Linked DNA regions of Homo sapiens. The protein of the gene in region 1 purifies or fractionates together with the protein of each later gene. This does not show direct contact. Each region holds a gene or a part of one and is shown on either strand. Other genes may lie near its edges.

Region 1 (3,820 bases):
CTAGTGTTCAATATCCATATAGGGCTAGCATATACTGTAGTGGGTACAGCAGATTACAGAGTACTTCCATATAACAGAAAGTTCTACTGGGCAGCACTGTCCAAGAGCTTCCTCATTTTTCATAGCTGTATAGTATTCCATTGTATAAATATCCCACCATCAGTTTTACCAAACAATTGGTACTTTTCATTGCTGATTTAAAGTGTTATTATGGTGCTCACTTCAGCAGTACATACACTAAAATTGGAATGATACAGAGCAGATTAGCATGGCCCCTGCACAAGGATGACATGCAAATTTTTGAAGCATTCCATGAAAACATAAAAATAAAAACAAAATAAAATAAAATGTTATTATGGGGTACCTTCCCTAAGAACAGAATGACCTTCTTTGTAATAAATTATACCTCCACCACAAAAAGGGGGGTAAAGAAAAACTAGTATTTGGGGTATTCTAGTATCATTCTATGATATTAGAATGATTTATCTTTTTAATATCTTTATTTTTAATTTGTGTAGGTACTTAGTAGTTGTATATGTTTATGGGGTAAAATGGTTTGTTTTGTGCTAGGGAGAGGAATTAAAAAGCGACTAAAACATTTTATATTGAAGTTCATAAGAAATAATCCTTAATCTTCACTTCTCTCCATTTTTCCTCCTAAATCTAACTTATCTGGTTTTCTGAGAAGCTATAAGTTTAAAAGCTTAAAGCACTGTGTGAGTGCTGGGGAACCAATTACCCCTGACGTGACTGAAAAATGGAGAAACAAGACGGGCCTGGATATCTACGAAGGATATGGACAGACTGAAACGGTACCTGACCTCACTGAAAAGACATAGCTGGATTCCATTTAGTCAGATGAATAAAAACCAAAGTGTCCACAGTCTCCTTATGATTATTTGAGGGATAGGAGTTGAGTGGTTAGAAAATGTTTAAAAAAACAATGCTTGCAAGAACCTAATTGCAAAAAAGCTCTGTTAACAGATAGTTGTTTAAATAGCCATTCATTGACAAACACCACTGTTAATGGATCAGAGTAAGGGCATTACAATATTTTTTTAAATGAAATAATACTGGATCTACTGAAAGAAAGAATTCCTCCCAGTGTGATAGGGAAGTATCTTATTTAGGGCTGCCTCAAAATGGAAAATGCTGAGATCCTTGCTGCCTGAAATATTAAGAGTTTGCTGGACAACTCCTTAGCAACCATACTCTAAAAAGGATTTTTTAAAGAGCTCATAGAGATAAGGAATAAGAAATTCTAGAGGAAATGAATGAAATAAGAACAAAAAATGAAATAAGAACAAAAAATGAAATAAGAAAAAAGAACAACAGTGGTTATTTTGTAGAAGAGGGAGGAGTAAGATGAAATAGATAAGGGAAAAGTTGAAAAAACTTTTCACAATGTGTCTTTATAATGCTTCAATTTATGAACCATGAGAATGTATCACCTGGTAAAAAATGAAAATATCAAAAATAAAAATCAAAAATTGAAAAATTCATTAACTAGAAATAGCATAACAAGTATGCTAATATAAATGCAAATGTTAATATACTCATGTTTTGATAAATATGGATATATGAGTAATTATTGTTATAACTATATTTTATACATATGCATGTATTTATATGTTATCACTACATTCCATGAGAGTATAGCATTCATTTTGAGCCTAGTTCATAGTAAGTTTTCAATAAATAATTTGTTGAATGAATGCATGATAGATGAATAAATTTTAAGTGACTTGTAATGTTATCTTACTTTTTCTTCTTCTTAACTAGGTGCTAATCTGTGGAAATTTTAAGGGAATGAAAATTAAACCTGGCTCAATGGGAAAACCTTCTCCTGCTTTCGATGTTAAGGTTTGCACATCCCCTTCCAGGAGAATGTTTAACAACCCAATCTGTACACTACCTACCTACCGCTTACCCCCATATAAACTTTCTTTGTTATGATGGTGATTCCATTTTACTTCCATGATACTTTAATTTTTATAAATATGTGAAAATGATTAGAAATGTTAGCTTCTTGGTCTCCATTATTTTGCAAATACCCATATTGTACCATACAGTTCTAAGCATTTAATAAACGTTAACCCATTAGGCTGGATGCAGTGGCTCACGCCTGTAATCCCAACACTTTGGGAGGCCAAGGCGGGAGCATCACTTGAGCCCAGGAGTTCAAGACCAGCCTGGGCAACAACGTGAGACTTTGTCTCTACAAAAAAATATAAAAAACTAGCCAGGCATGGTGGTACGTGCCTGTGGTCCCAGCTACTCAGAAGGCTGAGATGGGAGGATTGCTTGAGCCTGGGAGCTTGGGGCTGCAGTGAGCCATGATCACACCACTGCACTCTAACCTGGGCCACAGAGCAAGACCCTGTCTCTAAATAAATAAATATTAACCCATTGAATTTCCAGAAGAAACCCTATGAGAAGCATACTAATATTAGAACCATTTTACAAACAAGGCACAAAGAGGTAAAAGAACTCACCAGAAGTCACACAGCTAATAGCTGCTAGAGTTGGGATTCAATCCCAAGCAGTCTGGCTCCAATATCTGCACTCTTAACCACAACACAACACTGGTCCTCTCAGGCAAGGGAGGTCAAGACCTTCTGAGCGGGTCAACTAGGCCCGAAGAGGCTTCAGTTTACAGTGGCTGCAGCACTTTCCCTCTCTGCTCCCAAGCCTGCCTGGCCATTTCCAGCCTCTCTGTATCCACTGCCACTACTACCACCTGATGCCTAGGGGGAATTCCAGTTCCCCATCAGCAAGCTTTATATAGGGTTAAAATTGTTCTCAGATCAACCGAGCTTCAAAGCTGGGTGTAGCCAAAGGAACTTAACACTAATTTGGACACTCCTCAACTTATGATAGGGTTATGTCCCAAAATAATAAGTCATCATAAGTTGAAAACATCCTAAGTCACAAATGCATGGCTGACTGGGAGCTGTGACTTACTGTTGCTGCCCAGCATCTAGAGAGAAAGATGGTTTCAACTGAATGGTTATCTTTTTCACCCATTGTAAAGTTGGGAAATAGTAAGTTCGAACCATTTTAATTCAGAGACCCATCTGTACGTTAAGAGACAGCAAAAGCAGCAAAAATATGGATGAATTAACAGAGTACAGCTCTTAGATAAATGTTTCCCAAGCTTGTTTGATCATAAACATCATATGGATATCTGTTAAAAATACTAATTCTCAGGCCCCTGGAGAGACCAATTCAATAGATTTGGAGTGGAACTCTGAAATTTGAAATCTTGTGATTTTAACAAGCACCCCCCAAGTAGTTTTTAGGATCAAATAAGTTTGAGAGAGTTTAGATGAGCTTGATTGCTGCTGTAACTCTTTATAGAATAAACCAGATCCTGGGTCCTTTCTCTCACTTTAACCTTGCTGTGGAAACCTGGTCTCAAGATAGGATAGCCTAGTGGTTCAACTATATCTCTGCTATTCACTGTCTGAGTGTCTGTGGGTACACTGTTAAAGCTCTGTAAGTTCCAGTTTCCTAATTTGTAAAGTTGGGACTAGAGTGACCAACCTGTCTGTTTGCCTGGGACTTATCTGGTTTTAGCACTTAAGGCAATACATCCTGAAGAACCACCCCCCGACAACCCCTCACCACTTCAGTCTCAGATGGTTGGTAAACCAAATAATAACAGAACTGATTTCATAGGTTTCTTGTGGTGATTAAAGGAGACAATATGTTTAAAGAGCATATCAGAATGCTTAGTACATAATAAAGGTCCAAAAGATGGGTACTGTTATTTACTTCTCCCTCACATTCCTCTTTTTATTTATTTATTTATTTTTTT
Region 2 (3,820 bases), on another chromosome or scaffold:
AGGTGATCAGCCCTCCTTGGCCTCCCAAAGTGTTGGGATTATAGGTGTAAGCCACTGCACCCAGCCAGAAACACACTTTAAATAATAAAGACACAGATAGTTTAAAAGGATAGAAAAATATACTAACATGAATCAAAAGAAAGTCAGAGGGGCTATATTAATATCAAACAGAGTAAACTTCAGATTTCAGAATAAAGATTATAACCAGGAATAAAGAAGGATATTTCATAATCATCAAAGAGTTAATCCATGAACTTTTAAAAGTCCTAAATGTAGATACAGTCAGTACCTTACATGGGAGCTTCAAAATACATGAAGCCAAATCTGATAGAACTAAAAGGTGAAAAAGACAACTCCACAATTATTAGTTGAAGATTTCCACATTCCTCTCTCAGCACCTGATGAAACAAGGAAATGATATAGAAGACTTGCAAGACTGGCCAGGCACAGTGGCTCACGCCTGTAATCCCAGCACTTTGGGAGGCCCAGACAGGTGGATCACCTGAGGTCAGGAGTTGGCCTGACCAACCCAGTGAAACCCGTCCCTACTAAAAATACAAAAATTAGCTAGGCATGGTGGCAGGCGCCCGTAATCCCAGCTGCTTGGGAGACTGAGGAAGGAGAATCGCTTGAACCTGGGAGGCAGAGGTTTCAGTGAGCCAAGATCAGACCACTGCATTCCAGCCTGGGTGACAGAGCAAGACTCTGTTTCAAAAAAAAAAAAAAAAAAAAAAAACCTGCAAGATGCTATGAACAACTCAACCTAATTTTACATTTTTACCAAAATACCAACAAATAGCAGAATACATATTCTTCTTAGGTGCAAAGGGAACATTCACCAAGATAGAACATATTCATGGCCATAAAACAAGTCTCAATAATTTTTTTTTTTTTTTGAGAAAGGGCCTGACTCTGTTGTCCAGGCTGAAGTGCAGTGGTGTGATCATAGCTCACTGCAGCCTCAACCTCCCAGGCTCAAGGGATCCTCTCACCTCAGCTTCCTCAGTAACAGGAACCACAGGCATGTACCACCATGCCCAGCTAAGTTTTAAAATTTTTTCTAGATATGAGGTCTTAGTATGTTACAGTCCAGGCAGGTCTTGAGTTCTTGAGCTCAATTGATCCTCTGGCCTTCTTCTCCCAAAATGCTGAGATTATAGGTATCAGTCACTGTACTGGCCAATAAATTTTAAAAGACTGAAACTGGCCAGGCACAGTAGCTTATGCCAATAATCCCCAAGACTTTGGGAGGCTGAAGCTGGACGGTCGCTTGAGGCCAGGAGTTCAAGACCTCCCTGAGCAACATAGTGAGATCCGGTCTCTACAAAAAATAAAACAATTAGCCAAGCGTGGTTGCAGGTGCCTGTGGGCCCAGCTACCCGGGAAGCTGAGACGAGAATCACTTCAGCCCAGTGAGAGGTGAAGCCAGCTGGACTTCCTGGGTCGAGTGGGGACTTGGAGAACTTTTCTGTCTAGCTAAAGGTTTGTAAATGCACCAATCAGCACTCTGTAAAAATGCACCAATCAGCACTCTGTGTCTAGCTCAAGGTTTGTAAACGCACCAATCAGTACTCTGTAAAAACGCACCAATCAGCACTCTGTGTCTAGCTAAAGGTTTGTAAATACACCAATTAGCACTCTGTAAAAACGGACCAATCAGCACTGTGTAAAATGGACCACTCAGCACTCTGTAAAATGGACCAATCAGCGCTCTGTAAAATGGACCAATCAGCAGGATGTGGGCAGGGCCAAATAAGGGAATAAAAGCTGGCCACCCAAGCCAGCAGCAGCAACCCGCTCGGGTCCCTTTCCATGCTGTGGAAGCTCTGTTCTTTTGCTCTTCGCAATAAATCTTGCTGCTGCTCACTCTTTGGGTTTACACTACCTTTATGAGCTGTAACACTCACCGCGAAGGTCTGCAGCTTCACTCCAAGCCAGCGAGACCAGGAACGCACCAGGAGGAACAAACAACTCCAGACATGCCACCTTTAAGAGCTGTAACACTCACTGCAAAGGTCTGTGGCTTCACTCCTAAAGTCAGTGAGACCACGAACCCAACGAAAGAAACTCCGGACACATCTGAATATCTGAAGGAACAAACTCCAGACACACCATCTTTAAGAACTGTAACACTCACCGCAAGGGTCTGCAGCTTCATTCTTGAAGTCAGCGAAACCAAGAACCCACCAGAAGGAACCAATTCTGGACACATTTTGGTGACCACGAAGGGACTATTACCTATCACTAAGCGGTGAGTGCCTTTGGACCCCTTTCGCTTGCTATTCTGTCCTATTTTTCCTTAGAATTTGAGAGCTAAATATGGGGACATGTTGGCCAGTTAAAAGCGACTAGTGTGGCTGCTGAACTAAAGACACGGGTGTCAGGCTTTCTGGGAAAGGGCTAACAACCCCCGACTCTTCGGAGTGGGGAGCGTTGGTTTGCCTGGAACCAGCTTCTGCTTTTCCTGTACTTCTGGGCTGAGCCGAGGGTCGACAGCGAGGAAAGCCATTCAGCTCCGGGGTCCCGACAACAAGTTGGTTGACCCTGCAGCCATGAATGGAACTCTGAAAGTCACGTCGCACAGGCGAGACTCACCCATCTATCCTATCTATCCTGACCCTTGCCTCCTGGGTCCTAATGCCTGTCAGACAAACTTCCTCTCGCCTTTCTTTGAGGCTAGTCCCACTTCTAAAAACCACTCCATCTCTGGTGCTTTTCTAGTTTCTCCTGTAAGAATGATTTCTAGGATAAACTTCAGGACTCTGTTACCTTCTTTAGACACCCGGGCTCACCAATCAGAAAGACACAGTTTTTGCTCAAAGCCCCATCGTAGGGGGGATTATCTGGAATTTTAGAATCCCTCCTCAGAAAAGCAGGCCTAACAAAAGCTATTCCTGAAACTAGGATATCGGGAGCCTCAGAAATTGTATCCTTCCTATTCATATAACTGGGGATAAAAGGCTTCACTCTTCCAACTCTGGAGATCCCTTCCCTCCCTCAGGGTATGGCCCTCCACTTCATTTTGGGGGCATAACATCTTTATAGGACATGGGTAAGGTCCCAATACTAACAGGAGAATGCTTAGGACTCCAACAGTTTTCCAAGAATGCATCAGTAAGGGCCACTAAATCTGATTTTTCTCAGTCCTCTTTGAGGTCTAGGAGGACAGGAAAGGGCGCAGGTTTTCGAGAATGTGTTGGTAAGGGCCACGAAATCTGACCTTCCTCATTCCTCCTTGTGGTCTAGGAGAACTAGTGTTTCTGCTGCTGTGTCAGTGAGCACAACCATTCTGATCAGCAGGGTCCAGGGACTGTTGCGGGTTCTTGGGCAGGGGTTGTTTCTGCTGCTGCGTTGGTGAGCACAACTACTCCAATCAGCAGGGTCCGGGGACTGTTGCAGGTTCTTGGGCAAGAGGTGTTTCTGCTGCTGCATTGGTGAGCACAACTATTCCGATCAGCAGGGTCCAGGGACCGTTGCAGGTTCTTGGGCAGGGGGAGAAACAAACAAACCAAAACCACAGGCGGTTTTGTCTTTCAGATGGGAAACACTCAGGCATCAACAGGCTCACCCTTGAAATGCATCCTAAGCCACTGGGACCAATTTGACCCACAAACCCTGAAAAAGAGGTGGCTCATTTTTTTCTATACTACAGCCTGGCCCCAATTTCTCTCTCTGATGGGGAAAAATGGCCACCTGAGGGAAGTATAAACTACAGTACTATCCTGCAGCCTGACCTTTTCTGTAAGAGGGAAGGCAAATGGAGTGAAATACCTTATGTCTAAGTTTTCTTTTCATTGAAGGAGAATACCCAAGTATGCAA

The links.
Region 2: the proteins of ACSM3 (region 1) and NUDT19 purify together in Homo sapiens (affinity purification with mass spectrometry; one large-scale study listed by BioGRID and IntAct). This does not show direct contact.

Annotation. Positions count from the first base shown.
Region 1 is NC_000016.10:20,784,296-20,788,115, forward strand, and holds part of ACSM3 (acyl-coenzyme A synthetase ACSM3, mitochondrial), read left to right. Parts: intron 1-688; coding exon 689-812; intron 813-1,782; coding exon 1,783-1,863; coding exon of another isoform or gene 1,864-1,956; exon of another isoform or gene 1,957-2,019; intron 2,020-3,820. UniProt on the Homo sapiens protein: Catalyzes the activation of fatty acids by CoA to produce an acyl-CoA, the first step in fatty acid metabolism. Capable of activating medium-chain fatty acids with a preference for isobutyrate among fatty acids with 2-6 carbon atoms.
Region 2 is NC_000019.10:32,698,116-32,701,935, reverse strand, and holds part of NUDT19 (acyl-coenzyme A diphosphatase NUDT19 precursor), read right to left. Parts: intron 2,252-3,820; exon of another isoform or gene 1,789-2,251; intron 1-1,788. UniProt on the Homo sapiens protein: Fatty acyl-coenzyme A (CoA) diphosphatase that hydrolyzes fatty acyl-CoA to yield acyl-4'-phosphopantetheine and adenosine 3',5'-bisphosphate.